2 linked regions of the Homo sapiens genome follow. The protein of the gene in region 1 purifies or fractionates together with the protein of each later gene. This does not show direct contact. Each region holds a gene or a part of one and is shown in the gene's direction. Other genes may lie near its edges. The genes, in order: MGRN1 and HSDL1.

Region 1 (3,813 bases):
TACTAAAAATACAAAAAAATTTAGCCGGGCGTGATGGCAGGCGTCTATAGTCCCAGCTACGCGGGAGGCTGAGGCAGGCTGAATTGCTTGAAGCTGAGAGGTGGAGGCTGCAGTGAGCCGAGATTGCGCCACTGCACTCCAGCCTGGGTGACAGAGCGAGACTCCGTCTCAAAAAAAAAGGCTGGGCGCGGTGGTTCACGCCTGTAATCCCAGCACTTTGGGAGGCTGAGGCAGGTGGATCACAAGGTCAGGAGATCAAGACCATCCTGGCTAACACCGTGAAACCCCATCTCTACCAAAAATACAAAAAATTAGCTGGGTGTGGTGGCGGGCACCTGTAGTCCCAGCTACTCAGGAAGCTGAGGCAGGAGAATGGTGTGAACCCAGGAGGCGGAGGTTGCAGTGAGCCGAGACTGCGCCACTGCACTCCAGCCTAGGTGTCAGAGTGAGACTCCGTCTCAAAAAAAAAAAAAAAAAAGAATTGTGGGTGGGTGCGGTGGCTCACGCCTGTAATCCCAGCACTTTGGGAGGCCGAGGCAGGCGGATCACGAGGTCAGGAGATCGAGACCATCCTGGCTAACACGGTGAAACCCCATGTCTACTAAAAATACAAAAAATTAGCCAGGTGTGGTGGCAGGCGCTTGTAGTCCCAGCCACTCGGGAGGCTGAGGCAGGAGAATGGCATGAACCCGGGAGGTGAAGCTTGCAGTGAGCCGAGATCACGCCATTGCACTCCAGCTGGGCGATAGAGTGTGACTCTGTCTCCAAAAAAAAAAAAAAAAAAGGAGGGGACATTGAAGCAACAACAACAAAAAAAAGAATTGTGCAGTCATCACCACAATTGCAGACATTTCCCTTGTAAAAGTTTCCTTCCATCTGTTTGCAGAGTCCCTACCCCAACCCCCACCCTCAGCCCATCAGCGATCTGCTTTCTTTTTTCTTTGAGATGGAGTGTTGCTCTGTCGCCCAGGTTGCAATGCAGTGGCATGATCTCGGCTCAGTGCAACGTCCGCCTCCTGGGTTCAAGCAATTCTCCTGTTTCAGCCTCCTGAGTAGCTTGGATTACAGGTGCGCACCACCACGCCCGGCTAATTTTTAAATTTTTGGTACAGATGAGGTTTCACCATATTGGCCAGTCTGGTCTCGAGCTCCTGACCTCAGGTGATCTGCCTGCCTTGGCCTCCCAAAGTGCTAGGATTACAGGTGTGAGCCACTATGCCCAGCCTTTTCTGTTTTTTTTTGAGACAGTCTCGCTCTGTTGCCCTGGAGTGCAGTGGTGCAATCTTGGCTTACTGCAACCTCTGCCTCCTGGTTTCAAGTGATTCTCCTGCCTCAGCCTCCCAAGTAGCTGGGATTATAGGCACTGGCCACTATGCCAGGCTAATTTTTGTATTTTTAGTAGACACGGGGTTTCACTATGTTGGGAAGGCTGGTTTCGAACTCCCGACCTCAGGTGATCTGCCCACCTCAGCCTCCAAAGTGCTGGGATTACAGGGGTGAGCCACTGCACCTGGCCTGCTTTCTGTTCGTATGTGTGTGTGTGTGTGTGTGTGTGTGTGTGTGTGTGTGTGTGAAAAGTGTCTATTTGAGTCTTTTGTCCAATTTTCAAAAACTGGATTGTTTATCTTACGGAGTTGTAACAAAGAGTTCTTTATGTGTTCTGGATAGGATTCTCCTGTCAGCCATGTGATTTGCAAATATTTTCTCCCAGTCTGGCTTGTCTTTTAATTTTCTTAATGGTGTTTCTTTTGAAGAGCAAAAGTTTTGAATTTTGACGAAGTCTCATTTACTGCTTTTTAAGTGGATACTGCTTTTGGAGTTATGTTTAAGAAATCTTGGGCCCAGGCATGGTGGCTCACGCCTGTAATCCCAGCACTTTGGGAGGCCAAGGTGGGCGGATCATGAGGTAAAGAGATTGAGACCATCCTGGCCAACATGGTGAAACCCCATCTCTACTAAAAATACAAAAATTAGCTGGGCGTGGTGGCACACACCTGTAGTCCCAGCTGCTCAGGAGGCTGAGGCAGGAGAATTGTTTGAACCCGGGAGGCGGGGGTTGCAGTGAGCCTAGATCGCGCCACTGCACTCCAGCCTGGTGAAAGAGCGAGACACCGTCTCAAAAAAAAAAAAAAAATCATACAGGCGGCTGGGTGTGGTGGTTCATGCCTGTCATCTCAGCATTTTGGGAGGCTGAGGTGGGCGGATCACCTGAGGTCAGGAGTTCGAGACCAGCCTGGCCAACAAGGTGAAACCTCGTCTCTACTAAAAATACAAAAATGAGCTGGACGCAATGGCGCACGCCCGTAATCCCAGCTACTCAGGAGGCTGAGTCAGGAGAATTGCTTGAACCTGGGAGGTGGAGTTGGGTTGCAGTGAGCCAAGATCATGCCACTGCACTGCAGCCTGGGCAAACAGTGAGACACCATCTCAAAAAAAAAAAAAAAAAAAAAGCGCAGGTGCAGTGGCTCGCGCCTGTAATCCTAGCACTTTGGGAGACTGAGATGGGTGGATTGCCTGAGCTCAGGAGTTTGAGACCAGCCTGGGCAACATGGTGAAACTCCATGTCTCCTAAAATACAAAAAATTAGTTGGGTGTGGCAGCATGTGCCTGTAGTCCCAGCTAATTGGGAGGCCGAGGCAGAAGAATCGCTGGAACCCGGAGCGCGGCAGAGGTTGCAGTGAGCCGAGATTATGCCACTGCACTCCAGCCTGAGCGACAGAGTGAGACGCCGTCTCAAAAAAAAAAAAACAAATAGAAAGAAAAGAAATCTTTGCCTAGGTCAAGGTCACAAAGATTTTCTCCTATTTTTTTCTAGCATTTTGTTGTTGTTGTTGTTGTTGGTTTTTTTTGAGATGGAGTCTCCCTCTGTCACCCAGGCTGGAGTGTAGTGGCATGATCTTAGCTCACTGCAGCCTCTGCCCGGGTTCCAGCGATTCTTCTACCTCAGCCTACTGAGTAGCTGAGATTACAGGTGCGAGCCACCACGCCCGGCTAATTTTTGGATTTTTTAGTAGAGACGGGGTTTTCACCATATTGGCCAGGCTGATCTCAAACTGACCTTGTGATCTGCCTGCCTTGGCCTCCCAGATTGCTGGGATTACAGGCGTGAGCCGCTGTGCCCGGCCTTTTCTAGAAGTTTTATAGTTTTAGCTCTTACATTTAGGTCTTTGATCCATTTAGAGTTAATTCTTTTTTTTTTTTTTTTTTTTAATTTTGAGATAGGGTCTTACTCTGTCATTCAGGCTAGAGTATAGCGGCATGATGTCACTCTAGCCTTGACTTCCTGGCTCAGGTGATTCTCCCACCTCAGCCTCCCAAGTAGCTGGGTTTTCCCAGCTATGTATGTGTACCACTATGCCCAGCAAAGTTTTTGTATTTTTTTTGTAGAGACAGGGTTTCACCGTGTTGTCCAGGCTGGCCTCAAAGTCCTGGACTCAAGCAATCTGCCCACCTTGGCCTTCCAGAGTGCTGGGATTACAGGTGTGAGCCGCTGTAGCTGACCAAATTAATTTGTTTCACTTATGGCTTGAGATAAAGATCTAAACCCCCCTTTTTTGTGGATGGAATTCAATTATTTTAGTATCATTTGTTGTAGAGACTATCATCTTCCCATCAAATTGCCTTTGCACCTTTGTCAAAAATTAGTTGACCTAAGCCAGGCATTGTGGCTGGATAACAAAGCAAGACCATGTCTCTTAAAAATCAAAACAACAGCGACAAGAACCCCACCAGTTAACCATGAATGTGAGGGTTTATTTTGGGACTCTCCATTCTGTTCCATTGATTTATGTGTGTCCCAGAAGTTCTCAACTG
Region 2 (3,813 bases), about 80 Mb from region 1:
GATTTCTGAAATAAAACAAACCCTAAAGCAGAAAGATTGATATATTTGTCTCTTTCAAAATTAAGACATTCAGCCAGGTGCAGTGGCTCCCACCTGTAATCCCAGCACTTTGGGAGGCCAAGGCAGGTGAATGGTTTGAGCTTACGAGTTTGAGACCAGCCTGGGCAACATGGTGAAACCTCATCTCTACACACACAAAAAAAATTTAACTGGGCTTGGTGGTACATGCCTGTGTCCCAGCTACTTGAGATGCTGAGGTGGGAGGATGGCTTGAGCCCGGAAGGCGGAGGTTGCAGTGAGCTGTGATCATGCCACTGCACATCAGGCTGGGCAATAGAGCCAGACCTTGTCTCAATAATAATAACAACACATTTAGTTCATGAAAGACACTATAATGAGACACAAAACATACAGAGAGCTAGTATCTAGAATATTTAAAGAATTCTTACAATTCTGAGAGAAAAAAAAGGAAAGGACAAAAGATAGGAACGGGCATTTCATAGATTACAAAACACAGAAAGCACATACATATAAAAAGGACTGCAGCCTTACTAGTAACCAGGGAAATGTAAATTAAAACCATAATGAGATACCATTTCACAGCCACCCTGTTGGCAGAAGGTGAAGCTTTGGACGCTACCAGCCAGTGACATTGAGGAGTGGCACGAACCTGCTGCTGGCGGGAGTGTGAATGGGTTCTGCCGCTTTGCAAAAGCATTTGGCAGTGGAATGCATGTGGACCAGCAGTTAAACCATGGGCAAATCCCTTTGCGAACTCTTGCACAGGTGTGCAGGAGATGGGGACAAGCGCTCCCTGCAGCACTGTTCCTAACTGTAAATCAAAACCAGCAGAAACAGTGCACGTGCCTAGCACCAGCAGCAGGGGGACCTGTGAATCGTGGTGTATCTGAACCAGCAGCAGGGGGACCTGTGAATCGTGGTGTATCTGAACCAGCAGCAGGGGGACCTGTGAATCGTGGTGTATCTGAACCAGCAGCAGGGGGACCTGTGAACTGCAGTGCATCTGAACCGTGAGATACTGTGCAGCTGCCGAGGAGGATGGACTATATAGCTGCAGGGGCATGGATGAGTCTCGGGAATGATGTTGAGTGAAAGAAACAAGTCACCAAAGGGTCCATGTGGTGTGGTTCCTTTATGTGAGGTTCAAAACCAGGCGAAACTTAGCAATACTGTTTTTTTTTTTGTTTGAGACGGAGTCTCGTTCTGTCGCCCAGGCGGGAGTGCTGTGGCGCGATCTCCGCTCACTGCAAGCTCCGCCTTCCGGGTTCACGCCATTCTCCTGCCTCAGCCTCCCGAGTAGCTGGGACTACAGGCGCCCACCACTGCGCCCGGCTAATTTTTTGTATTTTTAGTAGAGACGGGGTTTCACCGTGGTCTCGATCTCCTGACCTCGTGATCCGCCCGCCTCGGCCTCCCAAAGTGCTGGGATTACAGGCGTGAGCCACCGCGCCCGGCCAGCAATACTGTTACTGTTTCAGAATACATGCTTGGGGTATACAGCTGTTTTGTTAAAAGAGTCAGGGAGTGACTACCCCAGAATTTAGGAGAGAGGCTGCCTCCAGGATAGAGGAGGGGCTGTAATCAGAGGAACAGCATACAGGACTTCCACGACACTGGTTTTGTTAAGTAGGCTGGTGGCTAAGTGGCTGTTTTATTATTCTTTGAACTGTGCATAATAGGTTTTACATACTTTTGTATATATTTAAACATTTTTGCCAGGTGCAGTGGCTCACGCCTGTAATCCCAGCACTTTGGGAGGCCGAGGTGGGTGGATCACTTGAGGTCAGGAGTTCAAGACCAGCCTGACCACCATGATGAAACCCCATCTCTACTAAAAATACAAAAATTAGCTGGGCATGGTGGAGGGCACCTGTAGTCCCAGCTACTCGGGAGGCTGAGGCAGGAGAAACGCTTGAACCCAGGAGGCGGAGGTTGCAGTGAGCAGAAATTGCACCATTGCACTCCAGCCTGGAAGACAGAACAAGACTCGGCCTAAAAACAAAAATTTCTTTTAGTTACAGAAAAATTCGTTTTCTATACATCTCCTGCCCTCCAGAGGCCTGTGCTCTCCTTGGACAACCAAGAAACCAAGATATAAGCAAGTTGAGTGTTTAAATAGAATCCAAAGCAGTGTGTGCTAAGTGCCACATGGGTAAGAGAGGTGGAGAGGAATTCAGAGGTGGGGGCAGTGCCACGGCCTGGGAAGGGAAGGGACAGGAAGGGAAGTTTCTCCCCAGGGCTGACATGTTGTTGGTGCTTGTTAGGAAGTGATTGAACGGAGGAGAAGACATGGGACTTGAAACGTCAGGAAGAACAGAGGATTTGGAGTACTGAGCACAAGACAGATTCACACTCTGAAAAAATTAAGATTTATTTGGAAAAATGTTTTCATCAATGAAAACAGCCATCGCCCTGGAGCCTTACTGAAAAGCTGGATAATCCCAGCTGGTGAGGAGGAGGACCTCAGGTCTACCCTGGTCAGTCAAAGATGGCAGGAACCTCTGAGACTTTCTGGCTCCTGAATACACATAGTGGTTTTGGCTTAAGGGAGGTTGCAGAGTTTTCAGCTTGTCTCTTCGCTGTCCTGAAAGCTGAACTGACTGTTCATCCATCCCTTCCTCCCACTGTTTATCCTTATCCCCTGTGGCTGATGTAACAAATTGCCACAAAGGTAGTGGCTTAAAATGACACAGATGTCTCTTCCTTCTGGAGATGGGAATCTGAAGTCATTGTGACTGCGCTAAAGTCAAGGTGTCAGCAGGGCTGTGTTCCTCTGGAGGCTCCAGGGGAGAATCCTTTTCCTTGCCTCTGCCAGCTTCTAGAGGCCACCCCCCGTCCTTCACTGGTGACCCACCCCTCTCTCTATTATCGAAACCAGCAGCACAGAGCACCCTCAACTCGAGCTCTCTCTGACCTCTCCCTTTGTAGTCACATGGCTCTCTCTCTTTGATCTTCCTGCCCCCCTTACAAGGACACATGATGACATTGGACCCACCCTCCCCAGCTCGGAGTCTTTAACTCAGTCACATCTACGGAGTCCCTTTGGCCACATAAGGTGACGTATTTACAGGGTCTGGGGATTAGGCTGTAGATATCCCTGGAGGCCATTACTGTGCCCACCACACTGTCGTTCGCTAATGCTTTGATTGTCTTTTTTTCCATCCTGCTTGCTTTGTCTTCTTTAAAACCCTGGCCAGTCTGCCTTGTGTTCTTTCACCACCCGCCCCACGTCACACGCATTTGGATAGCTTGGTAATGTCCATGTTTCAGCCAAGACTTTCCTCCCAGAACTCTTGGTACATGAAGGTTTTTCTATTTGAGTTGATTGCCCTTTACACTGCTAGGTGGAGTCCCCTTCACTGTGGAGTGGGATCATGTTACAGGCCACAGCAGTGGTGCTTTGAAGAGGTGACTTTGCTACTTGCAGTTTTGACCATAATTGTCCCGTGACGCTTTTGTAGTTGTAACGTTTCCTGTAGGTTTTTGATGACTCCTGCCCTGTAGAAGTAGAAAATGCTTAAAAGATAATAGGGACTTGCTCTTCTTTTCCTAGTTTGGGGACAGTTGTGGTTTTGTTTTGTTCACAGATGTTTTAGTTTTCTGCAGAGATGAGAAAACAAAGCTTAAAAATTTTTTTAAATTATTTTATATTTTTCCAACTTCATCGAAGTATAATTGACAAATAAAATTATATAAATTTAAGGTGTACAACATGATTTGATATATGTATACTTTGTGAAATGATCACCACAACCAAATTAGTTAACACATTCATCACCTCAGTTACTTTTT

Evidence for each region.
Region 2: the proteins of MGRN1 (region 1) and HSDL1 purify together in Homo sapiens (affinity purification with mass spectrometry; one large-scale study listed by BioGRID and IntAct). This does not show direct contact.

The regions. Positions count from the first base shown.
Region 1 is NC_000016.10:4,627,620-4,631,432, forward strand, and holds part of MGRN1 (E3 ubiquitin-protein ligase MGRN1), read left to right. Parts: intron 1-3,813. UniProt on the Homo sapiens protein: E3 ubiquitin-protein ligase. Mediates monoubiquitination at multiple sites of TSG101 in the presence of UBE2D1, but not of UBE2G1, nor UBE2H. Plays a role in the regulation of endosome-to-lysosome trafficking.
Region 2 is NC_000016.10:84,138,486-84,142,298, reverse strand, and holds part of HSDL1 (inactive hydroxysteroid dehydrogenase-like protein 1), read left to right. Parts: intron 1-2,041; exon of another isoform or gene 2,042-3,076; intron 3,077-3,813.